4 linked regions of the Homo sapiens genome follow. The protein of the gene in region 3 purifies or fractionates together with the protein of the main gene of each other region. This does not show direct contact. Each region holds a gene or a part of one and is shown on either strand. Other genes may lie near its edges. The genes, in order: RGPD3, HELZ, ESRP1 and ATXN2.

The links.
Region 1: the proteins of ESRP1 (region 3) and RGPD3 purify together in Homo sapiens (affinity purification with mass spectrometry; 2 studies listed by BioGRID and IntAct, with this or other methods). This does not show direct contact.
Region 2: the proteins of ESRP1 (region 3) and HELZ purify together in Homo sapiens (affinity purification with mass spectrometry; 2 studies listed by BioGRID and IntAct, with this or other methods). This does not show direct contact.
Region 4: the proteins of ESRP1 (region 3) and ATXN2 purify together in Homo sapiens (affinity purification with mass spectrometry; 2 studies listed by BioGRID and IntAct, with this or other methods). This does not show direct contact.

The regions. Positions count from the first base shown.
Region 1 is NC_000002.12:106,458,392-106,465,419, forward strand, and holds part of RGPD3 (ranBP2-like and GRIP domain-containing protein 3), read right to left. Parts: intron 942-7,028; coding exon 874-941; intron 1-873.
Region 2 is NC_000017.11:67,186,186-67,193,213, forward strand, and holds part of HELZ (probable helicase with zinc finger domain), read right to left. Parts: intron 4,171-7,028; coding exon 3,972-4,170; intron 3,512-3,971; coding exon 3,404-3,511; intron 2,432-3,403; coding exon 2,134-2,431; intron 1-2,133. UniProt on the Homo sapiens protein: May act as a helicase that plays a role in RNA metabolism in multiple tissues and organs within the developing embryo.
Region 3 is NC_000008.11:94,644,168-94,651,195, forward strand, and holds part of ESRP1 (epithelial splicing regulatory protein 1), read left to right. Parts: intron 1-2,000; coding exon 2,001-2,115; intron 2,116-7,028. UniProt on the Homo sapiens protein: mRNA splicing factor that regulates the formation of epithelial cell-specific isoforms. Specifically regulates the expression of FGFR2-IIIb, an epithelial cell-specific isoform of FGFR2.
Region 4 is NC_000012.12:111,484,293-111,491,320, forward strand, and holds part of ATXN2 (ataxin-2), read right to left. Parts: intron 4,489-7,028; coding exon 4,184-4,488; intron 2,533-4,183; coding exon 2,469-2,532; intron 1,574-2,468; coding exon 1,421-1,573; intron 1,040-1,420; coding exon 973-1,039; intron 1-972. UniProt on the Homo sapiens protein: Involved in EGFR trafficking, acting as negative regulator of endocytic EGFR internalization at the plasma membrane.

The sequences.
Region 1 (7,028 bases), on a different chromosome or scaffold from region 3:
TACCAGCATTTCCATCTTCCTTTGGATGCCTTTAAAAGCCTGCCTCCCAGCTGGGAGCAGTAACACACACCTGTAGTCTCAACACTATGGGAGGCCGAGGCAGGCAGACTGCTGCGCTCAGAAGTTCAAGACTAGCCTGGGCAACATAGTGACACCTGTCTCTACCAAAAAATGCAAACCTTAGCCAGGTCCACGTGGTGGTGCGCATCTGTATCCCCAGCTACTTGGGGCGCTGAGGTGTAAAGATCTCTTGAGCCCAGAAGGCAGAGGTTACAGTGAGCAAAGATGGAGCCAGCTGCTGCACTCCTGCCTGAGCAAGAGAGACAGATACTGCCTAAAAAAAAAAAAAAAAAAAGCCTGCCTCCCTCTTAATTTCCTGCTTTAATCCACTCCCAGTCAGGAAATCAGAATCACCAAGCTTCTTATCCCTAGGATAGAGCCTTAGAGCATCACATATTGTGTCAATTAAACATCTTTTATACAAGCTATTCTCCTGCCTTACAATTACAGTTTAATTTTTTATTCATTGCTATTTTCCATCTGATTAAGGTATCAGATATCTAACCAAAAACAAATTAAGATATAGGCATGGTCCTCTTTTACTTCAACAGAAGACAATTTTTAGAAAAAGTGTTTTAAGCCAAACAATTTCTTGCCCTTGGTATAAAGCAGCAGCATGCAGAAAACACTAATTACGGTTTCAATCTCAATGGAATCTAGGCTGGTCCTTAGCATCAGTCTGAGTGATAAATCCCTTATTCCAGAATACACTTAGGAAGAACTACTAAGGATATATTTTTACCTATTTCAAAGAAGAAAATGAGAAAAGGCATTGATTTTAAAAAAAGAATACATGTTACAGTTTGTACTTACTTTTTAGCAAGATCATATTCTTTAGCTTCATAATACAGCTTTGCAAAATAGAATCCTCTCGTTGACTTCTAAAAAAAATTAAAAGTTGTTTTACGTTTCATACAGAAATATTTTCCAACATTTTTTCAAAAGTAGTAAAAATCTGCCCTAAGTTTATGTTCAAATATGCCATTTTCATTCACTTAAAAGTTTTTTTTAAAGCCTGACAAATGCATAATTCCATGTTTTATAATTTCCTATCACAAAACAAAAAATAGAGCTGGGTGCAGCGGCTCATGCCTGTAATCCCAGCACTTTGGGAGGCCGAAGTGGGCGGATCACCTGAGGTCAGGAGTTTGAGACCAGCCTGGCGTTATAACATGGTGAAACTCCGTCTCTACAAAAATAGAAAAATTAGCCAGGCATGATGGCGGGTGCCTGTAATCCCAGCTACTCGGGAGGCTAAGGCACGAGAATCAGTTGAACCCAGGAGGTGGAGGTTGCAGTGAGCCAGAGGTTGCAGTCAGCTGAGATTGTGCCATTGCACTCCAGCCTGGGCGACAGAGACTCCATCTCCCAAACATCATCATCATCATCATCATAAATAAGCTGGGTGCAGTTGGTCACAACTTTAATTCTATTTAATTCTAGCACTTTCAGAGACCAAGGTGGGAGGCTAGCTTTGAGGCCAAGAGTTTGAAACCAGCCTGTGCAACACAACAAGATCCTGTCTCCAGGGGGAAAAAAATAGCCAGGCATAGTGGAGCATGCCTGTGTTCCTAGCTACTCAGGAGGCCAAGGAAGGAGAATCACTTGAGCCCAGGAGGTTGACACTGCCGTGAGTTATGACTGTGACACTGCACTCCAGCCTGGGTGACACAGGGAGATCCTCTCTCTAAATAATAAATACATAACATACAAAAAATAAATTCAAGAAAGCAAGACAAGCAGACAACAGAAGTTAAGAATTTTCATCAGCCTTGGAAATCTTGGAAACCCTGTGGTACCACTCTCTCACTTAACAAACAAAAGAAACCAGCTTTCTTTGGGGAGGAAAGGTATTCCAGAAATCTCTTCTCCTACCATGTGTAAAAGCCTCTATGGGAAAGAATAAGTAAGTACTTAGGATCTATTAAGGCACTGAGGATTCCCTGTGCCTCAATAGTACATGTACTGTTCTCTCTACAGATCAGATCAGTATTTTACAGTCAAGGAGTCAAAAAGGCAGAAATAAATATTGAATTCTTCAAGTAATAAACAAGGTCCACAGCCTGGCTCCTTGGTTACATAAACTCCAAAGTCCAAAATGCTGATGCACACCAGGCTGGGTGCGGTGGCTCACACCTGTAATCCCAGCACTTTTGGAGACTGAGGCAGGTGGATCACTTGAAGCCAAGAGTTCGAGACCAGCCTGGCCAACATACAGAAACCTCCTTTCTACTAAAAATACAAAAATTAGCTGGGCATGGTGGCACACGCCTGTAATCCCTGCTGCTTGGGAGGCTGAGGCAAAGAATCGCTTGAACCCGGGAGGCAGCAGTGGGCCAAGACCGCACCACTGCACTCCAGCCTGGGCAACAGAATGATTCCATCTCATAAAAAAAAAAAAAAAAAAAAAAAAAAAGCTGATACAACCAGAGTATGTTCCATCCATGTGATACAGAGTATACAGCTACTCAAACATCTTATTTTTGAAATTCCAAGACCCCAGTGAATGTCCAAAACGATGAATAGTACCAAACCAGGTTGCCATCAATCGAAACATGTTTCCTGTTTGTGTCCTCCACCCACAAATTTAATGTCTTGTCCATCTCAACTAAGCACTTATCACACACTGTGGCTGTAACTTTTGCAGTTTGGGGTGTCACAACAAAACTAGCACAAATTTCTTTTTCTTTCTTCACAATTTCATGGACAAAAGATTTGTTCTTACCATAGATCTTAGCAACCCCAGTATATGATCTTTTTTCTTTCCTAAGTCAAAAACTCACCTCTTCACTTAAAGGAAGCACTATATGGCTTCTCTCTGGCATATGTGAACTGCCAGCATCGCTACTCTTGCTCTTTGGTGCCATTTTAAATAAAATAAGGGTTACTTGAACACAAGCACTGCAATACTCCAACAATTGATCTGATAACTGAGATGGCTAGTATGTAACTAGCAGGTGGGGAGCACATACAGCATGAATATGTTGGACAAAGGGATGACTTGTGTCCTAGGTAGGACGGAGCAGGAGGCCGTGAAATTTTTATCATGTTATTCAGAACTGTTTGCAATTTAAAACTCATGAAATGTTTATTTATATAATCTTCCATTCAATATTTTTGGACCACGGGTGACGCAGGTAAGTAAAACCACGTAAGGCAATACTGTGGATAAGAAGGGACTACTGTACCAGCAACGAACAATCAGAAAAGGAAATTAAGAAAGCAATTCCATTTACAATCGCATCTAAATGAAAAAAATGCCTGGGAATAAATGTAAACAAGGAGGTGAGAGACTTGTATGCTTAAATTACAAAACGTTGCTCAATGCCAGGCTAACACCTGCAATCCCAGCACTGGCAACAGAGCAAGACTCCATCTCAAAAAAAAAAAGAACTATAGCAATCTTAACAAAAATAATACACAACAGTCAGGACAGCACGTAAAAGAACAAGGCTTGTTCCCCCCTTCCTTTTTTTTTTTGAGATGGAGTCTTGCTCTGTCACCAGGCTGGAGTGCGGTGGCTCGATCTCAGCTCACTGCAACCTCTGCCTCCCAGGTACAAGCTGGGACTACAGGCGCACACCACCATGCCCAGCTAATTTTTGTATTTTCAGTAGAGATGGGGTTTCACCATGTTGGCCAGATGGTGTCGCTCTCTCGACCTTGTAATCTGACTTCCTCCGCCTCCCAAGGTGCTGGGATTACAGGCGTCAGCCACGGAGCCCGGCCAGTTCCCCCTTTTCAAAATGAAGAAATAGATTCAAGGTACAATGCCAAAACATAATAGAAAAATAATTCCATTACCTTCTTTGCTTCCAACTATGTTATTAAAGTAGACAATCTTAAGATAATTAAACAACTTTACAAATTATTCTTCTGTATGATCTTTTGCCTCTAACCTGCTCACTTTACAAGGGAACTGAAGCTCAAGCAGGCAAATGCCTTGTTTAAAGATATATAGCTAGGAAGGAGCACAGCCCATGTTATGTAAACAGGACAATATCTGATTCAAGCAGTACTTCTTTGCATGACAGCAGATGTCACTATAAGCAAATACCTGAATTCACTTAAGCTGCCAAATATCAAGAACTGATGCAGGGCTGAAAACAGGAACAGTAAGACCCTAAGAGATGCCACATCATCGCTATCTTGCACAGTAAGATAGAGATGTAATTGTAATTGTCCAAAACTTAACATTTGTGGCCTACTTTTTCATTATGCAGTTCTGAATTTCTCTTTTTTTTTAAATTCAAACGGAGTCTCGCTCTGTCACCCATCTTGCACAGTCAAATGAATCTCCCTCCCCCTAAAATCCTCCAAAAAAGCTGCTGTTCTCAACAAACCCATCTGATCAGCTCCAAATCTGTGGAGTCCCAACAAGGGTGAAGGCCGTGATTATACAGGACAATGAGGAAAAGTCTAGATACTGAACCATGAGTTCCCCAATCTTCTTCCCCTGGAACATAAGGGTAAGGAAATCTCTCAAAAGGCAGAACAAACAAAAGAGGAGAATAAGAGAAAAATTAGAGAAACTCCAGCTTTCAGGTAAACATCATTAAAAAAAAGGGTAAGAAATGGTCAAAGAAATAATACAAGAAATGCTACAGAACTGAAAGAAATGAGTTTCCCAATTGAAAGGACACTTTCAGAAAACCTTTGTTACCAAGAACAAGAATCTCATCAGACTCCTAACAACAGAACTTCTAGAAAATGGAGCAATGCTTTCAAAATTGCGAAAAAAATTATTTCAAACTCAGAATTCGATAACCAAATGATCAACTAAATTAAGTAAAGACATTTTAAAGACATACCATTAGTTTCCAGACCAGCCTGACCAGTATGGTGAAATCCCATCTCTACTAAAAATAGAAAAAATTAGCCGGGCATGGTGGCGCACACCTGTAATCCCACTACTCAGGAGGCTGAGGCAGGAGAATCACTTGAACCCGGGAGGCGGAGGTTGTGGTGAGCTGAGACCATGCCACTGCACTCCAGCCTGGGCAACAGAGCAAGACTCTGTCCCAAAACAAAAACAAACAAAAAAACCTCTCATCCACTTTTCCTCAAAGCAAGTGAGACTATGCTACACCAAAACAAAGAAAGTAAATGAAGATGACATGAGATACAAGAAACAAAGGGTCTAACTCAGAAAAAAGATGAAGGGAATTCTCAAACTGGTGATAAAGGGAAGTCCCAAGAGCACAGCTGTGTAGCAAAGAGGAAGAAAACCCAATCCAGGTTGGAGAAGTCGGTTAGTAAGGGTATTCCAGGTAGACAATCAATCAATCAATCAATGTTTTAAGCTGAAATTGAACGGATTATGTGACCAGTTTGACCACATTTGAGGGTTTAAGTTGCTGAGTTTAAGTAAGCAAGTAGTAACACAACATACAAGCAAACCAAAAAATAAAGCAATTATTCAGTCCAGGAAAAACAAAACTGCACAACAAGGGCAATTCAAATGCAAAATATTTACCTTATATTTATATAAATGTTAAATATTCATTTAAACAAAAACTGCAATAACAGTACTGAAAGAATGAGGGGCAAACCAAAGTGTCTGAGGACAGTTTTGGAGGAGCATAATAGCCAGTACAGAATGTCTAAAATGGGGCCCGGCGCGGTGGCTCACGCCTGTAATCCCGGCACTTTGGGAGGCTGAGGCAGGCGGATCATGAGGTCAGGAGATCGAGACTATCCTGGCTAACACGGTGAAACCCCGTCTCTACTAAAAACACTAAAAAATTAGCCGGGTGTTGTGGCGGGTGCCCGTAGTCCCAGCTACAGGCTGGGGCAGGAGAATGGTGTGAACCCGGGAGGCAGAGTTTGCAGTGAGCCGAGATCGCGCCACTGCACTCCAGCCTGGACGATAGAGCGAGACTCCATCTCAAAAAAAAAAAAAAAAGAAAAGAAAATGTCTAAAATGGGAGAAAGGGAATTAAAAATAACAAAAGTATATATGTGTGTTACTCAGAAGTATGAAGTATAGATGTAAAGGGCAGAAAAAACAACTAACAGCTGTCAAAGGTGCCTGCCTGTAGTCCTAAGTACTCAGGAAACAGAGGTAGGAGGATCATTTATGCCCAAAAATTTGATGAGCAACACAGCAAGACCCTATTCTAAAAAAAATATAAATAAAAATAAGAGCTGTCAAGTAGACTTTGAGAAGTAGGAATCAGCTGCAGAATAAGAAACCGACTTGACAGAACATAGAAAAACTAAACAGAAGCCATCTGGAAAAAGAAAAACTAGAGAAAAAATTATATATTTTTTTCTTTTTTTCTTTTTTGGAGACAGAGTCTCGCTCTGTCACACAGGCTGGAGTGCAGTGGTGCAATCTCTGCTCACCACAACCTCTGCCTCCAGGGTTCAAGCAATTCTCCTGTCTCAGCCTACCGAGTAGGTGGGACTACAGGCGCTGCCACCACGCCCGGCTCATTTTTGTATTTTTAATAGAGATGGATTTTCACCATATTGGTCAGGCTGGTCTCTCGGCCTCCCAGAGTGCTCAGATTACAGACGAAGAATATTTTTAAGAAGGGCAAAAGCACATGTGAGGGAGTAGAAAAATGGCAAAACAAGAGGAGACTAACAAATGAAAGCACAATGGAAGACTAGAAAGATATGATATACAGACGCATCATCACACTCCAAAACTCCGACATTCTAGAAAGCATGGGCAGTTCACAGATGGCCAGCCTCTGCCAAACTGGGGGAGAATACTAACCTCTTCATATTCTTCACAGCCACTGCCTCTTCTCCCTCCATTCTTTACCTTCTATCCAAAGCACCCTGTTTTGTCATTTCACTCAAACCTAACTTCACAGAATAGCTTCACATGTTCCAAAGTTACTCACTAGTTAATCCATATTCCGCTGAAATCCCCAGGTTCTAATGTAAATGACTTTCAATTTGGGGGAAAAAAAGACTCTAAGTGTAAGAGAGGTGGTCATAATAACCAATCGTCA
Region 2 (7,028 bases), on a different chromosome or scaffold from region 3:
TTCCTACTTTCTTCCTTTTGTGTATAAGCCAGAAATTATCCTAATCAAGGCTAATTATAAACATAATAGCTACTATTAACTAAACGTCTACTATGAGCCTGATGTCGTACGAGGCTTCAGGTTGTCACAATGATCTATGACAGGTATTACTAGCCCCATTTTACAGATGTTTCCCCGTGAAGCCCAGAGAAGTTAAGTACTCTGCCCAGGCTCACACAGGCAATAAGTCGAAAATCAGGATTCAAATCCTATTCTATTTGACTCTGATTTTTGTCCTCTGCTCTTCTCCAACAAGAAAAGTAACTCGTATCTGAGGCAGAAGTAGTCAAAGTACTTTTACTCTTCTCAAGCCTATGAAAGTACCCTGAGCTCCTTTTCATCACCACCTTTTCTAATTATCATGTTTTAATACTATCGTTCTTTTACATTTTACTGCAGACATTTAACATTTTATATTATTAATTAAATATTTTACTAACTAATAAGAATTCTTGACAGCACTTACAAACATTTCTATGGGTAAAGGAGTCTGAGTTATAAGCCACTAACCTACAAGCAAATTTCTAAAATACAACCCACATGTAAGCCAAGAACATCCTTTACAGTTATATTTGAGAGTAGGAAATGTATGTTGTTCTCTCTTTATGACTTAAATCTCTTTATGATTTAAAAAGGATGCTGCTTAGTGGTTCTCAAGGTCTGGTCTCTAAAAGCAACTTACTAGTTCAGGGGTAGGCAAACTACAACACGAAAGTCAAATGTAGCCATTGTTTTTGAAAATAAAGTTTTATTGGAACACAGTCACACCCATTTGCTTATGCATTGTCTATGGCTGCTTTCTCATTACGACGCAGAGCTGAGTAGTTGCAACAGAGATCACCTGCCCTGCAACACCTAAAATATTAACCGTCTGGCCCTCTGCAGAAAGAATTTGCCAAATACTATGCTAATATATATAAGCCAAATACTTTATTTTTATTTTATCAACTACCATATCTATTTAGCTATGGAAATTAATTTATTCTGATTCCAAAGAGTACTGAAAAGATGACAAAAATACATACTACAGAATAAAAACAAGTAAAAGGGATCAAAGTCAGTGGGAAATAAGGGTAAAGTGAAGTCTGGGTAATCTTAGCACACGTAGAAGAAGATGTCACCTAACTGTTAAATTTGGGCACCATCGTTGTTTCAACCTTACTAGCAGCTAAAGTAAAGAGGAAGACAGACCAATTTCACCTTTTCACTATGTGAAAAAAAATAAAATTCTAGCATTCGCTAATGAGAAAAACTACTTCTAGGTTCTCATGAATGGGACATTATGGTACATAGTAAAAAACGTCCTCCACAATATGGTTAGTTATAGTCAATACAAAAGCAAGTTTCACACAGCTCTGCTTTTTGAAGTGTTTGTTAAATAAAAAGTTTTTGTTAAATAGAATAGAACACCTATAAATCCAACCAAGAGCAAAGGAAATGTGGGCTAACATGTCCTTTCTTTGTCCTGTTGGATCTTGGCATAAAATTTAGATATAGGCAATAAATTGACAATGTACAAAGTAATTCCTTATGTCATGCTTACATGATGAAACCAGGGACCTCTTCCCAAAAACAAAGAGCAGATTTGATTAAAGGCACCCTTGGCCTCCTTAACACTAGTGGATGCACAAACTGATTTATGAAGGCTTATTATACTCAAGACTTTTCATTCAGAAACAATGTACTAACATCAGCAAAGTTAACTAGTCAATAGGACATGAAAATAAACATTGTAGGTATATACACAATTACCATTAAAATGATATTCTACCCAAACTAATATTGAAAGATATTACTGTGCTAAAACCATCTTACTGTGAAATGAAACTGGTAGACCAAAACAGGTCTGATCATCTACTCATACAAGTTTGGGGAACCTCAAAGTTCAAGCTTTACCTGGTGGCTCTGTGAAGAAATCAGGGCACAGTGTGAATCATTATAAGCCCATTACACAGTAAATGAGTCAATTAAGTTGGGATTTTTTTCTTTATTACTATTCTCTTCCTATCCATGGAATATATTCAGGGGCCAATACATATCTTTGAATGTTGCTTTTTAACACATTGTATCGGGGGAAAAAAGTCTAAATATTACCTTCTGTAGAAGCTGCATCAATCATTACTCTTTGCATGAGTACTGGTTCCAATCCAAAGTCGAAAACTATGGTTTGGCGAAAAGTTCCAAATATTTCTGTGTTAAATGCTATCCCGACTTTATACACGTAATGATCTAATCCATTTTGGGCCATCTTTCCTCCTATCCATTCTTGACAGTTTTCTGGGACTTCTTGTGATACCTGGGTAGTACTATCTCCGGCAGATATTGCAATGATACTAAAATGAGGACGATGAGCATCATAAAGCAATGCTACACGATACAGCATTCTTGCAGGCTACAAGGAAGTTAAAATAATTCATTGAGTACAAGGGGGTGAAAAATCCAATTGTAATTGGGCTCTTCAATGAAAATATTTCCATAAGGGACTTTTACTTCCCCAAGCTTCTAAGATACTATAGCCATTTAAGAAAAAAATCAGAATGGTTTTTTAAAATCAGTTGTTAAAATTATTTATTTATGCTATATCGCTAGCCTCCCTTCTCTTCCTGTGACATGTTCATTTTTCACTGTGGCAAAAGCTATCACCCTATATAACCATCAACCTTCAAACTTTCCATACTCTTCACCTACAGAAGTTTCATGTAGCCTCAAGTAGGAAGCCTTCGTAAGAGGGCAGTTACCTCTGAAAGCACTGGATTGGGTTCAAGGCTGAAGCTAACTGTTCTTAGATTTTTCATCTCCAGATACAGAAAGTACAGCAGAAGAAATGCCACAAAAAAGACAAAAACTTTTCCACTGAGCATACTCACAGAAACTTTTTACTTTGCTTCGATCTTAAACTTTGACTACTATAATTTAAGATGGGAAGCACTGCAGAAAATGCCCCATATTAAAAACCCATTATCACAGAATTTGTGACTTCATCATATCAAATATAAAAACAAGTTGTTATGGTTTAAAAATCTTAGAACTACTAGAATAAACAATTTTTAAGTAGTTAATTACAAGCCATGAACCCCATCCTATGTCCCAAGTTTAGAAGACAATATGTCAAAGATCTCTTTACCAAATAAATAAATATGAAAGCACCCTAAATATCTACAAAGATCTCATCTAAAAGTATTTTTAAAATTGTACTTTTAATGATCAAAGTACAGAAATATACTTTAGTACAATATAGAACCTATATATAATGTACTTAGATTAAAATATTTTCAATATTCTTTAACACAGAGATTCAAAGGTCAAAAAAACGTTCAGAAAATTAAACACAACTTTTATGCTTTAACTAGCACAAAATTCATACCTTACAAGTGAGAGCAAAGGTCCATGTCTGGTGGGATTTTTTGGTGCTGACAGTAACTGACAGGTCAGGATTGTGCTCTACCTTTACTCCTTCTATACATTCACTAAGCTGAAAACAGACAGCAATTTATGTTATGTTTTTATTGCTAAGGGCACAAACAAAATCTTTTAGCATGGAAAATAAATGTCAACAGTTAAGATGATGATGGAACTGTTTACAGACCAAAGTATTTTATACCTTCATTTTCAGTAATTTTGACAAGAACAAAATATAGTAAAGCTAAAATAAGAGAGAAAAGAAAATTAACCACCACCACAAAAATGGCACTCAAAAACTGCCTGAATGAAGGTAATTAATACAGTACAGGCAAATCTCCAAACAAGTGGTTTAGTTCTGCTCTTCATTTTAACAAATGGGTCTACTATAGCTACTAAAAACATCATTCTATCAGAATCAAGTTCTTTGCAAAGAAGATAAGGAAATAAACCAAAATAGAGCACACAATAAAGTCAAGACTCAAGTTCATTGTTTAAGACAAACAAAAAATAATGTAGCTTATTTTCCTCACCACTTTCTCAGGAGACAATGAATTCATCCACTTTTCTATCAAGGTTTCCATGTAACTGCCTGAGAGCTGTTTATTCTCATTTTGCTGTTTCAATTTTATCAGCCGTGAAGCATATCTTTTCTGCCATTCTGCTAGTTCTTCCTGGGAATGTGCTGAAGTACACTGGGCACCATACCTACAGATTCCTTGTTCTAAAAATCTAAGTAGAATAGGAAAGACTGTTTTATCATATACTTTGTTGAACCATTTAAAAATAAACTCCCAGCATTTGCCCTCTGATTCTTCAATAAAAACAAAACTTCATGTGCTGAAAGGCCATATTTATCGTACTGTCTTGTACAAAGGAGGGAGAAGAGGTTTAGAGAACATTTACAACAGTTAACCAAAACATCAGCTCCCCATATTATTCACTGACTTTCTCTGGAATTAGGGGATCCTAAGGCATAGGTATTCACGTCGGCCCTCCAAAAGAGGCACTGAAAAGTAGCTTCCTTGGTCATATAAGGACTCTTACTAGACAATTCCTCTTAGTGTAACTGGGTTTTGTTTTTGATTTTTTGTTTTTTGTTTTTGAGACGGAGTCTCACTCCGTTGCCCAGGCTGGAGTGCAGTGGCGTAATCTCGACTCACTGCAACCTCTGCCTCCTGGTTTCAAGCAATTCTCTGCCTCAGCCTCCCGGGTAGCTGGGATTACAGGCGCCCGCCACCACGCCTGGCTAGTTTTTGTATTTTTAGTAGAGACGGGGTTTCATCATCTTGGCCAGGCTGGTCTTGAACTCCTGACTTGGTGATCCACCCGCCTCGGCCTCCCAAAGTGCTGGGATTATAGGCGTGAGCCACCACGCCCAGCCAGAGTAGGATTTTTTTAAGCAATACTGACATCAAGTGGATTTGCTGCTCACACACAGGTATACCCTACTTCCCAAAATGATAAGGACCTTAAAAAAATTTTCTATATATGGGAATTTCATTCTGAAAAAACAGTTAACATATGACTAATTACCATTTTAAGGCTTTTACTTTTCACCTTTAAACATAGTGATTTTACTCTTTTCTACATTACTATTACCTATATTTCAGTGAAAATATATTAACTTGCTTGAAGCTTTAAATAAATTTAGAATCAAAGTTTTATATTACAGAGTCACAAATTTATTCAACAGTCATGTTAAATTCAAGGGAATAAATTATAAATGTTCATTTTAAAGGACAGAGAGTCAATGATTTCTCGACGTTTACAACTCGGAAAATTCAACTGACAATTCAGTGACCAAAAACAGATAAAAATAAAATACTTTGATAATTTTTTTTTTTGGAGATAGTCTCGCTCTGTTGCCCAGGCTAGAGCGCAGTGGCACGATCTCGGCTCACTGCAGCCTCTGCCTCCCGGGTTCAAGGGATGCTCCTGCCTCAGCCTTCAGAGTAGCTGGGATTACAGGTGCCTGCCACCACAATGCCCGGCTAGTTTTTGTATTTTTAGTAGAGATGGGGTTGCATGTTGGCCAGGCTGGTCTCGAACTCCTGACCTCAAGTGATCCACCTGCCTTGGCCTCCCAAAGAGCTGGGATTACAGGCATGAGTCACCATGCCCGGCCCTGATCATTAACTTTTTTTTTTTTTTTTTGAGATGGCATTAACTTTTTAAAAAAGTTTTAAATACCCTGCAAAATTATAGGCAAAGCCAGTTTTTAAATAAAAATAATAAAAACATTGATAAAAGATCTTCTGAGAAAAAATGAAAATTAAACTAGAAATATAATTAAATGGCCGGGCACAGTGGCTCACGCCTGTAATCCCAGCACTTTGGGAGGCCAAGGCAGGCGCATCACCTGAGGTCGGGAGTTCAAGACCAGCCTGACCAACATGCAGAAACCCTGTCTCTACTAAAAATAGAAAATTAGCCGGGGTGGTGGCACATGCCTATAATCCCAGCTACTTGGGAGGCTGAGGCAGGAGAATCGCTTGAACCCGGGAGGCGGAGGTTGCAGTAAGCCGAGATCATGCCATTGCACTCCAGCCTGGGCAACAAGAGCAAAACTCTGTCTCAAAAATAAAAAAAAATACATAATTAAATGTAAATATAATATAAAACTATAAATAGCAAAAGAGAGATGTTATATTACAGACCATTTTTCAATTGGAAAAAATATGGATAGTAAGAAATAAGAAATGAACCACAGCACAATATGAATTTTCAAATGGTTCACCGTATTTGAAAAAATGAGTATATTTAAAACTTTTCCTGATGGTACAACAAAGTACTTGAACTTAAAATTATACTATTTATTAAATTCTCTTACACTTTTGAAGACACATTTAAAATCATTTTATGTTTCTTTTCAATATGTCTTAATGGGCCAAATCTTTGTCTTTCTATTGCTTGGCTTTAAATTATTTCCCTAAAAAGTGAAAGTGTTATATTCTTATCTGTACTTCAAATCTTCTCATATTTCCTTTTCATAGGATTGTGTTCTGTCTCTTCTACAACATAACACCACTAGGATTTTCAATACTTACACATTAGTTTCCTGACTATTCAATAATCAAAACCATGTAGCAAATTTCCTTCGCTATCAAAAGTAATCTAAAGAGGCGGTGAGAATTTATATCTAAAAATCCCACTAGTTACAAGTTCTTACAAAAAGAACCGAAGAGTTTACCATTTTAACTGTAACTTTAATCATTCCTTCCACATTAATAAATAATTATTAAATTTTGAAAGGTTAGCCCTTCATTATGAATTATTCATAAATTCTACATAAGAATTACATGAAGATAATATTTTTCAGAAAGGTTAAAACAATTTAACATTTCTTTATCTATTTTATGCTCTACTTTTTACATAAAGTATTGTCAACTTCAATCACCACAACCTAAGTAAATTTCACATTAACAAATGGCCATGGCCAGGTGTGGTGGCTCACATCTGTAATCCCAGCATTTTGGGAGGCCAAGGCAGGAGGATTGCTTGAGCTCAGGAGTTCAAAACCAGCCTGAGCAACATGGTGAAACCCCATCTCTACAAAAAAAATACAAAAATCAGCCAGGCTTGGTGGC
Region 3 (7,028 bases):
TGTGGGAAAAGGAACAGCAGAGACAACCCACCCAGTGTAGCCAATCATTGTTAATACACTGTCTCTTAACAACTTAAATTAGTTTGAGCTGTAACTTTTTATTGTGGTAGGCAGGCACCGAGCTTGAAAAGATGGAAGTAGAATATATTTAGGTACCTGTATAAGGCAAGGCTTGCAATGAAAGATGTAGACTGACAAATGACGACCCAGGCAAGTAAGTGCAGATTTTATTTCGTTTAATATATTATGACAATTCAAAAAGTTTGAAGGAGTAACTCAAGTTGTTATGTCTTCAGAAAATCATTCCTTTTATACGAGTCTTAGTAATTATTTGACAAAAGGGGAAGAATTTTTTTAAAAAATTAAATGCTAGACTAGTCGCTACATCCTTACCAGAAATAGTAATATGTAAGGATTACTTTTTTACTCCCAAACTCACATGACGGAAGGACAAGACTTAATCTTTTCCCTGTTGGGCCAGAGGAAAATAGCTGTTTTCATTATTTAGGTGGAGTGCTTTGGGTGTAGGAAAACATCTGGAGAAAAATTAAGACTTTTTCCTCAGCCACAGCTATTAGAATTTTGATTAAATACAGAAACTAAAACAATTAATGTTATAGTGAAAGTAATTCTGTATATTCGTTAAAGAAAAGGGAAAATGGCAAAACATGAAATAATCCTGCCACTCAATATATTAAAATGTTTTTCTCTAACATGAATGTATTTGGATATATTCTTCTAGATTTCTGTAGACAAGCATTATTTACAAAGAGCATTCATACGGCGTAAGCCTTTTAGCCTACATTATTTAATAGAACATCAACATTGTTATAACCACTAAATAAAATACTCAGTATTTTAAATGGACACAACAATTTAAACTGATTATTGTTGAACATGTGAGTTATTGTCCTTACAAATAGCTTTTAAATGAGCATTTTTGTAGGTAATAGGGAGGTTTCATGGTTCTTTTGGTTGTTAACTTTTTTAAAAGCTGTGACCATGATGCAGCAATACTGATTTCAAAATACAGCATGAACAGGTCACATCTAGTAAAATCCAATAGAAGGAACTTGGAGAGGAGATATTTTGCATGAACATTTAACATTTAAAAGTCTTAATTTCCTTGATGTTCTAATGTAAAAATGGGTAAAAATTCCCAGCAAATTAACACAATTTCAAAATTTTAAGAAAAATCTGAATTGAGTTTTTAAAAGGATTATCTTTAAAAGTTATCCAATGCTGGGTTATTTTGTTAAGAAAAAAAAAAACAAAGGAAACAATAGTGTAATATTTGTCCAGACAGTTGAGCTTTGCTTCGTAGCCACGGTAGTGGTCCTAATAGCTAAGAACAGCAGGTAACCATTTCTCCTTTGCCTTTGGGATTTGTGAGTTTGTTTTTGTTTGTGTTTGAAGTCTAATTTGAGTTCACAGGTACAGCTACAATATTGTTCAAGAAGACTAATGTGGGACTATTATTTGGCACAGAAATAAGCCTTTTCAGTTAATCAGGAATTTACTATTCTAATCTCACTTATTACTGAAAATATGCATTATTAGAACCCAATAGTTAGAACTACCCAGTTTTACAATCTAATCCCACACCTGTGTGAAAACTGAAAGGGCTGCTAGTGCTGCCTGAAAATACAGATGTTCTAAAATGGTTATGGCTGGAAAAAATTAGTATTAACAGCCAGAAAATATGAAGTATAACAGCACAAATGTATCACAGCTTCAGAATTGTTTTGAATGGAATGCATACTGGAGCACAAACATTGTAATCCACTGCCTTAAAACAAGAGGAATTTTTTTCATGAGACTTGTACATAGGATCTAATATAGAAACAGGACCAACTTTTAAAAATAAATCTACTTTTACATTAAATTTTAAATTTTTCCATTGTAAAATATGCTTATATTCAATTTTTAGGTTCCTAATTGTGAGAGAAACATTGAACCAAATTCACCTAGTTAACATTATCTACCTTGTCCTTCCTCAGAATGTACTATTACCTGAATGCTTCTATTCCTTTTTTGATCTTCGAAAAGAATTCAAGAAATGTTGCCCTGGTTCACCTGATATTGACAAACTGGACGTTGCCACAATGACAGAGTGTATCCTTTAAATCATTACTCAAGAATCATTTGAAAAGATAGTTCCAGAAAAGGTAATTCAAGAAACTTTCAAACATTTTAAATTTTGTCAGCATATGGATAAAATTGGCCTATCCAAAATTTGTTTACTCTGCTGAGAAACTAAAATACAATTATAGACATCTTTGAAAGTGGTTATAATTAATCAGATGGTTGGACGGATTTGGAGATGGATTTTTTGGTGGGGTGATCACATGTAGAATAGGATTCAGTTTCAGCTGTGTAATGTGTGTGTGTGCTGCAGAAAGAACATGAAGACTTTAGTGCAGATTCTAAGGCCACTTTTTCTTGGTTACTGTGATTTTAGGGTTTATTTTGGCTTCTTTGGAATGAAGTCAATAATTTTTTTAATTGGTGGATATATCCCCTTTACAAACTGCTGTTCACTGGTCCCGCTTTTAGCCTCCCCTGAGTTTTTCAAATACAAGATTATGCTGATTATAATAAGCCATCTTTGGAGATGATAAAATGGGGTCTGGATTGTCCCCCACATTCTTTAGTTACCAAAATAATATATTTGATGCATGATATATTGTAAAAGTAATTTTATAATTACAAATCTATAATCATGAATGACCCGTCATCTTACATTCATTAAGTCTTTCAAATGCTAACTAATAAGCAGGCGTGTGCTAATATATCAGATGTAAAGTTGAGTAATTGTTACCTTGAGTGGCTTCCCAAAAGCCACTGTGAGAGTCATCATGAAGTTAAAACTAAGTTAACTTCAGTAGCTTGTGGGTTGTAGATGCTTATTCCCAAACTTTCTCATTCATTTTCAGGAATTAAAACCTGGTTTTTGTGTTACTTCACGATTTTTTTTCCTGATTGAAGTTTGCTCGCATATATTTCATAACTACTTGTAAACAGGTCAAATCCGTTTTCATTTGCCTTCTTCTTGGAGTCAGTTAGCTGGAATTTTGGCTTAGCATGACCAGTAGTGTTGGGAAGAGGGTGGAATAAGCTCATTGTGACAGAATTCTTACAAGAATTTTGTTAAAAAGGTTAGTACACCAGAAAAATTCTCACTGGTTTTTCTGTTGGGTTGAATGTTGTATTAGACAGCTCAAGCTTCCATAACAAATACCATAGACCACGGAGCTTAAACAAAAGAAATTTACTTTCTCACAGTTCTGGAGGCTGGGATGTCCAAGATCAGGGTGTCAGCATGGTCAGGTTCTGGTGATGGCTCTTCCTGGCTTGCAGGTAGCCAGCCACCTTTTCTGGGGGGATAGCAGGAGGAGTTATCTTCTTACAAGGTCACTGCCCTATCTAATTAGACCCCTCCACCCTTTGACCATCATTTAAACTTAACTTCTAAAGACCCTCTCTCCAGATAGTTACATTGGGGGTTGGGCTTCAACATAGGACTTTGGGGGAGGTGGAGGACACAATTCAGTTCTTAAGTATATATTAAACTTTTTAATGTGGATAGTTGGTCTTCCACAAAATAGAGAACCAGAGTACCTACTGAAAAATTAGAAGGCAGTGGAGGAAAAATCTAATAAGCTATCTTAATTTAGAAAAAGACAACTTCTGGCTGGACATGGTGGCTTATGTCTGTAATACCAGCACTTTGGGAGGCTGAGGAGGGAGGATGGGTTGAGACCAGGAGTGCTGACACCAGCCTGGGCATTATTGCGAGAACCCATCTCTACAAAAAGTAAAATGAAATAAAAATATTTTAACAAACGAAAAAGATAACTTCAGTAGGAAAGGAAGTATATTAAGGATTGTTGTGCCAGGGCAATATAGAGAAACCCCATGTCAACAAAAAATAAAAAAATTAGCTGGACGTGGTTGCATGAGACTGTAGTCCTAGCTACTTAGGAGGCTGAGGTGCAAGGATTGCTTGAGCCCAGGAAGTCGAGGCTGCAGTGAGCTATGATTGTGCCACTACACTCCAGCCTGGGTAACAGAGCAAGACCCTGTCTCAAAAAAAGTGGATTTTATTCTTAAATGTTTTAATATTTAATATCGTACTTGTACATGTCTTTCTCATTTAACAAGTTAGAAATGCTAATAAGCTTTCTTAGCAACGGTTTTTATGTTATATTGCTGCTGTGGTGAGTTATTTTATGACTACTATTCAGAGGAATACTTATTTCCCTGTCTAGGCTACCAGACCAATTTCTGAGGCTAAAAGCAATTATGTCCAATCTGAATATCAACTTGTGCTCATCTATGCAAAGTATTTCTACAATGTCTGAATTGAATTGTTCCGTTCTTTCAGAGCATTAAACATTTTCCTTGCCAATATGGAAGTGACGCTGAATTGGGAGATCTGTAGTCATTAAACATTCTTGATGGTTTTGCCAAGTGGACAGAAGGTCATTTGCTCTTGAGGAATTACCTGTTTCACCTGGTAAACCAGTGGGGGAGGGAAAGGGGCTTCTGTAAACACCTGGAGAAGAGCAGATAAGAGAATGTGCAGGTTGAAGTGTTTAATTTTTTTTGTCGTGAAATACTTGTATCCTTGATTGGTTGTTTTAAACGAGGATACAGAAATATCAATTTGGACCCTCAGTGATGTCACAATATTCTAAGTGTTTTGGAAACATGCTTTATTAACTTTACATCCAAGTAAATTTAAAATTTTTAACAAAAATCCATTTTTGGCTGGGCACGGTGGCTCATGCCTGTAATCCCAGCACTTTGGGAGGCCGAGGCAGGTGGATCACTTGAGTTCAAGAGTTCAAGATCAGCCTTGCCAACATGGCGAAACCCCGTCTCTGCTAAAAATAGAAAAATTAGCCGGGCATGATGACGCACATCTGTAATCCCAGCTACTCAGTAGGCTGAGGCAGAAGAATCACTTGAACCCAAGAGGCAGTGAGCCGAGATCATACCATTATACTCCAGCCCAGGTGACAGAGTGAGATTTAAAAAAAAATTATTTTTCAAATTTTGGAGATGGGTCCTCATATTTTGCCCTGGCTTCTCTCAAACTCCTGGCCTCAAGCCATCCTCCTGTCTTGGCCTCCCAAAATGCAGGGATTATAGGTGTTTGCCACCATATCCTGGCCTCATTTATTTTTTAATTAGTAGGCTTTATTTTTTTGAGATGTAGTCGTGCTATGTTACCCAGCCTGGTCTCAGACTCCTGAACTCAAGCAATTCTGCCTCAGCCTCTTGAGAAGTTTGGATTACAGGTGCATCTGCTATACCTGTAATCTCAACTTTTTATTATTATTATTATTTCTTTCTTTGAGACAGAGCCTCCCTCTGTTACCCAGGCTGGAGTGAAATGGCGTGATCTCGGCTCACTGCAACCTTCGCCTCCTGGGTTCAAGCGATTCTCCTGCCTCAGCCGCCCAGGTAGCTGGTATTACAGGCGCCCGCCACTATGCCTGGCTAATTTTTGTATTATTAGTAGAGATGGGGTTTCACCATGTTGGCCAGGCTGGTCTCCAACTCTTGAGCTCAAGTTATCCACCCATCTCGGCCTCCCAAAGTGCTGGGATTACAGGCGTGAGCCACTGCACCCGACCCCAACTTTATTTTTTAGACCAGTTTTAGGTTTAGAGCAAAATTGGGCAGAAAGTATAGTGTTCCTATATAACCCTTGTTACACACATACATACACACTCTCACTCACTCCCCCACTGTCTACATGCTGCACCATTGAGCAGAAAGTATATTGTTCCTATAGAACCCTTGTTATTCTCTCCCTCTTCCTCTCCCTGCTCCTTCCCTTCCTCTCCTTCTCTCCCCGTGCCCCCTCACTGTGAAAGTGCTGTACCAGAGTGGTACATTTGTTACACCTGATGAGCCTACATTGACATGTCAATATTACCCAAAGTTCATAGTTTACATTGGGGTTTACTTTTGGTCTTGTACATTCTATGGATTTTGACAAACGTATAATGACATCTATCTACCATTGTGGTATCAAAATACATTGTAGCAATAGCATAGTATAGAATTTTTTTGTTTGTTTTGTTTTTTTTTACCTGCTACCTTAAAGTCTTTTATCCCTAATAGAATAGTTTTATTGCCTTAAGAATCCTCTGTACTTTGGCCAATCATTCCTCCCTCTCCCTTAACCCCTGACAACCACCAATCTTTACTGTCTCTGTAGTCTTGGCTTTTCCAGGAGGTCATATAGTTGGAATCATGTAGTATGTAATCTTTTCAGATTGTCTTTTTAGCCGGTAATATGCATTTAAGATTACTCCATGTCTTTTTGTGGCTTTATAGTTCCTTTTTAGCACTGAATTCCATTGTTTGGATGTATGGTTTGTTTATCCATACACGGTTTGTTTATCCAAACATGGTTTGTTTATTCGCCTACTGAAGGACATCTTGGTTGCTCTCAAGTTCTTGCAAATATGAATAGTGCTGTTATAAACATCACGTGCAGGTTTTCATATGGACATAGGTTTTTTAAATCATTTTTATTTTTTTTTGAGACGGAGTCTTGCTGTATTGCCCAGGCTGGAGTGCAGGGGCGCGATCTTGGCTAACTGCAAGCACCGCCTCCAGGTTCACACCATTCTCCTGCCTCAGCCTCCCGAGTAGCTGGGACTACAGGCGCCCGCCCATGGCTAATTTTTTGTATTTTTAGTAGAGACGGAGTTTCACCATGTTAGCCAGGATGGTCTCGATCTCCTGACCTCGTGATCCGCCCGCCTTGGCCTCTTAAAGTGCTGAGATTATAGGCGTGAGCCACCACTCCTAGCCTAGGTTTTTTATTTATTTTGGTAAGTACCAAGGAGTGTGACTGCTGGATCATATGGGAAGAGTGTCATTTTTTATATCTCACTGCAATTTTTGTGTTTAAGGCAGACTTTTTTCCAGGGGGAATGGTGAGGGAAAGCAATGAGGCCTTGCATTTAAAAAAACAGTATGTGGAACTTGAATAATATGCAGTA
Region 4 (7,028 bases), on a different chromosome or scaffold from region 3:
TTTTTTTTTGAGATAGGGTCTCACTATATTGCCCATGCTGCTCTCGAACTCATGGGTTCAAGTCATCCTCCAGCTGGGATATCAGGCATGGAGCCACTGTGTCCAGCCAATTAGTCTGGTTTTTTTGTTTGTTTGTTTTTTGTTTGTTTGTTTGTTTTGAGATGGAGTCTCACTCTGTTGCCCAGGCTGAAGTGCAGTGGCACGATCTTGGCTCACTGCAACCCCTGCCTCCCGGGTTCAAGCAATTCTCCTGCCTCAGCCCCACCTAGTAGCTGGGATTACAGGCGGCAGGTGCCACCATGTCCGGCTAATTTTTGTATTTTAGTAGAGATGGGGTTTCGCCATGTTGGCCAGGCTGGTCTCAAACTACTGACCTCAGGTGATACACCCACCTCGGCCTCCCAAAGTGCTGGGATTACAGGCATAAGCCACCATGCCCAGCCAGTATTTATGTTTGAGACGGGGTCTCACTCTGTCGCCCAGGCTGGAGGGCAGTGGCATAATCACAGCTCACTGCAGCCTCTACTTCCTGGGCTCAAGTGATCCTCTCGCCTCAGTCCCCCAAACAGCTGGGGCTACAGGCATATGCCACCATGCCCAGCTAATTTTTTTGAATTTTAGTAGAGACAAAGTCTCTGTTGTCCAGGCTGATCTTGGGCTCCTGAGCTCAAGCAATCCTCCTGCCTTGGCCTCCCAAAGTGCTAAAATTACAGGTGTGAGCCATCACACCAGGCCTCCAATTACTCTTTTTGAAGAGGATACTATATAATCACAACTGATGGGCATTTTTTCTCCCCTGTTTTTCTTCATAAAATCCATGTGAATATCTATGTAATGTTGTTCATCAAAAGCCAATGCATAGCCTCATCAAAAAGTCAGAGCTAAACTACAACTATTTATTCATTATAAACTTAGTTACTCAATTCATGCAGCATGCAAACTACAAGCAAACACAGGCAGGATTATTCTCACCTTTACCTGCTCTATATGTCTTGGCTTGATTCACTGGCATGGGCGTCATAGGTATTGGGTATAAAGGCTTGAGAGAATTAAAAAAAAAATTAACATTAGGCACCTATGATAATAACAAGGTATTCTGTCACTCTTAGTTTTATATTGCTAGAGAGCTAGGCATGAGAAGGTTTCCTGATTCTCCATTAGTCATTAAAAAATTAGATCATACCCACAGCTAAAAGGAACAAACCCCAAACTACAGTAAATCTAAACCATCTTTTTCACAGAAAACATTCTCAGATTTAGGTCCTCATACTTAACAACACACTGAATCTCTGCATGCCTGTCTGTTTCAAATGCATATGCATAACCATCACACCCTCAAGTCACTGAAAACCTAAAGAGTGCTTGGTGTCAGATACAAACAATTGGGGAGGCTAAGTGAACATCAAATTCTATGACTTACTTGCACGCCTGGGCTCACTGGGACTGGATACATCATATTTGGTGCAAAACAAACAGGCTGAGTATAAACTGGAGTTGGCTGTTGATGACCCACCATAGATGGGCTAGGTTGTGCTTGAGGCCGAGGTGAAGTTGGGGTAGTAGAAGGCTTTGGCTACAAAAACAACAATAAATTCAATTATCTCAAGGTAACAGATGAACTATTATTGCAATTTAAAGACGGATTTTCCCAGTCTTTCTAATTTTACTTGCTTTAACTATGTCCCTTTTATTGAAAACAAAAACACAGCACATAAATTTTCACATTTCAATAAAAGAAAAAATGTTTCAGTAGGAACTTAAAACTTTGTCAATTAAAAAATATTAAAAACAGTGGCAGCTATTTTTAAGAAACTGATGGAAGTGTTTTTAAAAATTAAAAATAAATATATCTTCTTATGATCTCAGTCGAATAATAACAATAGTACAGTCATCTCTTAGTATCTGTGGGGGATTGGTTACAGTACCCTGTGAAGATACCAAAGTCTTGGAATGCTCAAGTCCCTTACATAAAATCATGTAGTATTCGCATACAACCTATGCATATCCTCCTATATACTTTACATCATCTCTAGATTATTTATAATACCTAAAACAAGGTAAATGCTTTACTGTATTGTTTTGGAATAATGACAAGGAAACGTCTGCATGTGTTCAGTATAGATTATCCTAACTATGTTTTTGATCCATGGTTGGTTGAATCCAGTGATGCAAAACCCTCAGGTGCAGAGGACGTATCTATAAACCTGACAGCCTAGCTAGCCAACCATCGTCAAATTCTGGGTCAGAGAAATTCAAAGATTTGCCCAAGATCACATCTAATTGATGACAAAACAAAGACCTTTTTTTAATGTTTAAAAAGTATTCATTAATGGCCATGTAAAAAAAAGAAAGAAGGTTGGTTCAGCACACTAAAACAAAATTCAGATGGCAGGTATGGAAGAAGGACTATTACTAATAATTTTTCTTTTTTTGGGACTAGATAACCTCAAAGAAAGTAATAAACCTACCTGAGAGAAGGAACGTGGGTTGAACTCCTTTGCATTGGGATTCAATGTTGATTTCCTAACTTGCCTAAAAAAAATATAAAGGCCAGTGAAATCTACATGGACTTTACGTTGCTCTAAAATCTTCCATACCTGACAATTTAAAAAAAATTGCTAAATATAGATTTAAACTGTTCTCACTAGAAGATCACTAATCGTTTTTATTGAAACATATACACTTATATTGCCCATTCCTTAATCCCTTAAAGAATACAGCCATAAAAGAACAATTTTTTAAAAATCTGAGTAATATACAACCGTTCCTCTCAAAGGCAATCAAAAAATACTTTTTTTTTTTCCTTCACAGAGTCCCACTCTGTTGCTCAGGTTGGAGTGCAGCAGTGCAATCTTGGCTCACTGCAACCTCTGCCTCCCGAGTTTAAGCCATTCTCTTGCCTTAGCCTCCTGATTAGCTGGGATTACAGGAGACTGCCACCACGCCCAGCTAATTTTTTTTAATATTTATTTTTAGTAAAGATGGGGTTTCACCATTTTGGCCACGCTGACCTTAAGTGATCTGCCTGACTCAGCCTCCCAAAGTGCTGGGATTACAGGTATGAGCTACCACGCCTGGCCAATCAACAAACACTTGAGCTGAAAAGACAGTAGCTACTTATGAAATATCCTTAAAAGCAATTCTTAACATAACAGTATCCTTTTATTTATTTATTTATTTATTTTTGAGACAGAGTCTCGCTCTGTCACCCAGGCTGGAGTGCAGTGGCATGATCTCGGCTCACTGCAGCCTCCACCTTCTGGGTTCAAGCAATTCTCCTGCCTCAGCCTCCCGAGTAGCTGGGATACAGGCACCTACCACCATGCCTGGCTAATTTTTGTATTTTTAGTACAGACAGGGTTTCACATGTTGGCCAGGCTGGTCTTCAACTCCTAACCTCAAGTAATCTACCTGCTTGGACCTCCCAGAGTGCTGGGATTATAGGTATGAGCTACCAGTCAACATACCAATATTCTAGCATGCAGTAATTCTTATGTGAGAAGATATTTTACATGACATACCTGGAAAAAGTCATGGCTGTAAAAAAAAATTGCCTCAAATCAAGAATAAGCAGTCCCCAATTTATCAATAAGCTGCATTCCAAAACTTCAGCTTTAACTGGATTGTTTGGTACCCAAACACCTAAGTCAATGGTAGTTAAGTTCTGAGGTTAGCCCCTAAAAGTCCATTTAATTAATATACTGAATGTGCAGAATTAAGTCTATCTTAACAAATCTAAACATTAACTAAAACACAGTTTCTGATGAAAAATATTTTGAATTCCAAGTAGAAGCACCGCATGCTTCTCTCCTTGACAGTGGCAGTTTTTCAACCTAGCAGCACAGTGAGGGTGACTAATGAGTGGAATCCAGTAAAGATAGGTCCCCTGAATTGATAATTTTTCAACTCCTGTTCATTTACAGAAAAACTTTTCTTAATTTATGCCTTGTTTTTCTAGCCCTGGGGTACAAAAAAGGGGAAGAACAGAAGAGTAGCACAGGGTGCAATAACCTCATTTACTTAAGATGTCATTTGTTTGGACTAGCTGTTTGTAAACTAAGGGCAATGTATAAAGTAGTCTAAAAGTCCAGATGGATTCTTCACAGTTGGAAGGACCTAAATGCCTTTAAAAAAAAAAAAGTTAATTGAGTAACAGGATGGTCTAAGTTCCAGGTTTACTCACTCAGCTGCGTCTTTCTTCTCTTCCTTATCGTCTTTCTCTTGTTTACATGCTGGGCTGGAAGTCTGAACCCCTTGGGAAGTGACCTCAGGTCCCCTCTTGTGCTCCGTGTTACTAAGTATTGAAGGGGAAATGCTGGGGCTATTCGGCTTGCTGCTGCCACTGGTACAGTTGCTGCTGCTATTTTCAATGAAAGAATCCTTAGCACTTGGTTCAATTTTGTCTTTGATCAAATCTCTTGATTTTTCTCCCTCTCTATTTTTGTTTAGTAGTTGATCCATAGATTCAGAAGTAGAACTTGGCTGTAACTAAATAAAGGAAACAATTATACTTAAATATCTTAAATAACTTTAGTAATACATTTTTGCCATGAGCACAAGCTACGTAATATTAACTATACGCATGAAATGTTCTGAATAAGGCTTTTTTCATACTTTAAGAGTAATGCTTTTACTATAAACTAACAATAACAGAGTACCTATATAGCACAACCACAGTCACCAAAGCACTCAAATGTCCTAGCCTCTAAAGTTCAATATTTACTGAGTGCTTACCACATGTCAGAAATTGTGCCTGCTGGGTGAGAAAAATATGAAATAGTTTCTATCCTCTTATACTTGTCATTTAAATAAGATCAGACACTTCACAATAAAATGAGTAAATGCTAAGAGAGTCTATAGAAAAAGCAACCTATAAAAAAGAAAGGTTTCTCAGTAAAGTGTCAGCTAGTCTAAGGTGTGAAAGAAGTTTAGGAAAGGTGTTGGGATGGAGAATAGTCTAAGTAAAAGGAAGAGTATGTTTAAAAATCCAAAGAAAAGGGAGAAGCTGGCTCTATCACATAAAACAATAGCACCAATGGGGGCCGGGCACGGTGGCTCACGCCTGTAATCCCAGCACTTTGGGAGGCCAAGGCAGGCGGATCACGAGGTCAGGAGATCGAGACCATCTTGGCTCACACGCTGAAACCCCATCTCTACTAAAAATACAAAAATTAGCCAGGCATGGTGGCAGGCGCCTATAGTCCCTGCTACTCGGGAGGCTGAGGTAGGAGAATGGTGTGAACCTGGGAAGTGGAGCTGCAGTGAGCCAAGATCACGCCACTGCACTCCAGCCTGGGTGACAGAGCGAGACTCCGTCTCAAAAAAAAAAAAAAAGATAGCACCAATGAGCTGGGCACAGTAGCTCATCACTGTAATTCCAGCCCTTTGGGAGGCTGAGACAAGCAGACTGCTTAAGCTCAGGAGTTCAAGACCAGCCTGGGCAACATAGTGATACCCTGTCTCATTTAAAAAATAATAATAAAATAAAATAAAATAACAAAAATAAAGAAGTAAAGAAAAGCACCAATGGCTGGACCAAGGGTGAGACACACATGTACAAGTGAGTCAGAAAATGATAGACTCGTCAAAAGGAATATGACAATAAAGGAACTTAAAAGCTATGTTCAGGGCTGCGTGCAGTGGCTAACACCTATCATCCTAGCACTTTGGGAAGCCAAGGCAGGTGGATCACTTGAGGTCAGGAGTTTAAGACCAGACTGGCCAACATGGTGAAACTCCGTCTCTACTAAAGATAAAAAAAAAAAATTAGCCAGGCGTGATGGCACACGTGTAAATCCCAGCTACTTGGGAGGCTGACATATGAGAATTGCTTGAACCCAGGAGGCGGAGGTTGCAGTGAGCCAAGATCACACCACTGCACTCCAGCCTGGGTGACAGAGCAAGACTCCATCTAAAAATTAAAAAAAAAAAAAAAAAAGTTTTAAAAAGCTACGTTTAGGACTTTGGCTTTTAATTCTCAGGGCAAATGGGCAGTCTATACGGAATTTTAAGTAGGGTAGAGTACTGGGCAGATTTATAGTTCAGAAAGGTGAACACAGCAGCTTTGTGTGAAATGAACTGGAGGGAGGCTAATTAGGATGTGGAGGGACCGTCATGGAGGCTGGACTAAGCGCTGGGCCTAGTCAGCTTGGAAGGTCATTAAGTAGGTGAATTCAGAATGAGACCTGACTGTACATATTGGTCAGTTAGACATTCTAAACCCCTAAGTAAAAAAAGGAGATGGCAGGGGAGAAGAGACAGAGCATGGTGGCCAAACAGAACCTTCCAGTGATCATCCCCAACAAGGAGCACCAAATTGAACAACTATCCACACAAGAAAGCACCTTCATAAGAACCAAAAATTAGGTAAGCGATCACAGTACCCAGTTTTGACATCCTATCAAGGAAAAAGACACCAAAAAAGATAAGGAAGATAGTCTTGAACTGCCCCTCCAACACCCCTGACATTCCCCCACAATGCAGTGTGGGGTGGAGAAAGAATCTGTGTGCTCGGGGGAGAGAGAGAGAAATGACTGTGGGATTTTGCATTGAAACTCAGTGCTGCCCTGTCACAGTGGAAAGCAGCATAGGACAGAATTCAGCCAGCACCCACAGAGGGAGTATTTAGACTAGCCCTAGTCAGAGGGGAATTGTCCATCCCAGTGATTAGAATCTGAATTTCGGGCTGGGCACTATGGTCTGTAATCCCAGCACTTTGGGAGGCCGAGGCGGACGGATAACCTGAGGTCGGGAGTTCAAGACCAGCCTGACCAACATGGAGAAACCTCATCTCTACTAAAAAACAAAAAAATTAGCCAGAGGTGGTAGCGCATGCCGGTAATCCCAGCTACTCAGGAGGCTGAGGTAGGAGAATTATTTGAACCCGGGAGGCGGAGGTTGTGGTGAGCTGAGATTGCGTCACTATACTCCAGCCTGGGCAATAAGAGCGAAACTCTGCCAAAAAAAACCAAAAGAATCTTAATTTTGGTAAGCCCCACCACCGTGGGTAAAGTCCTCTGGGGTCCTAA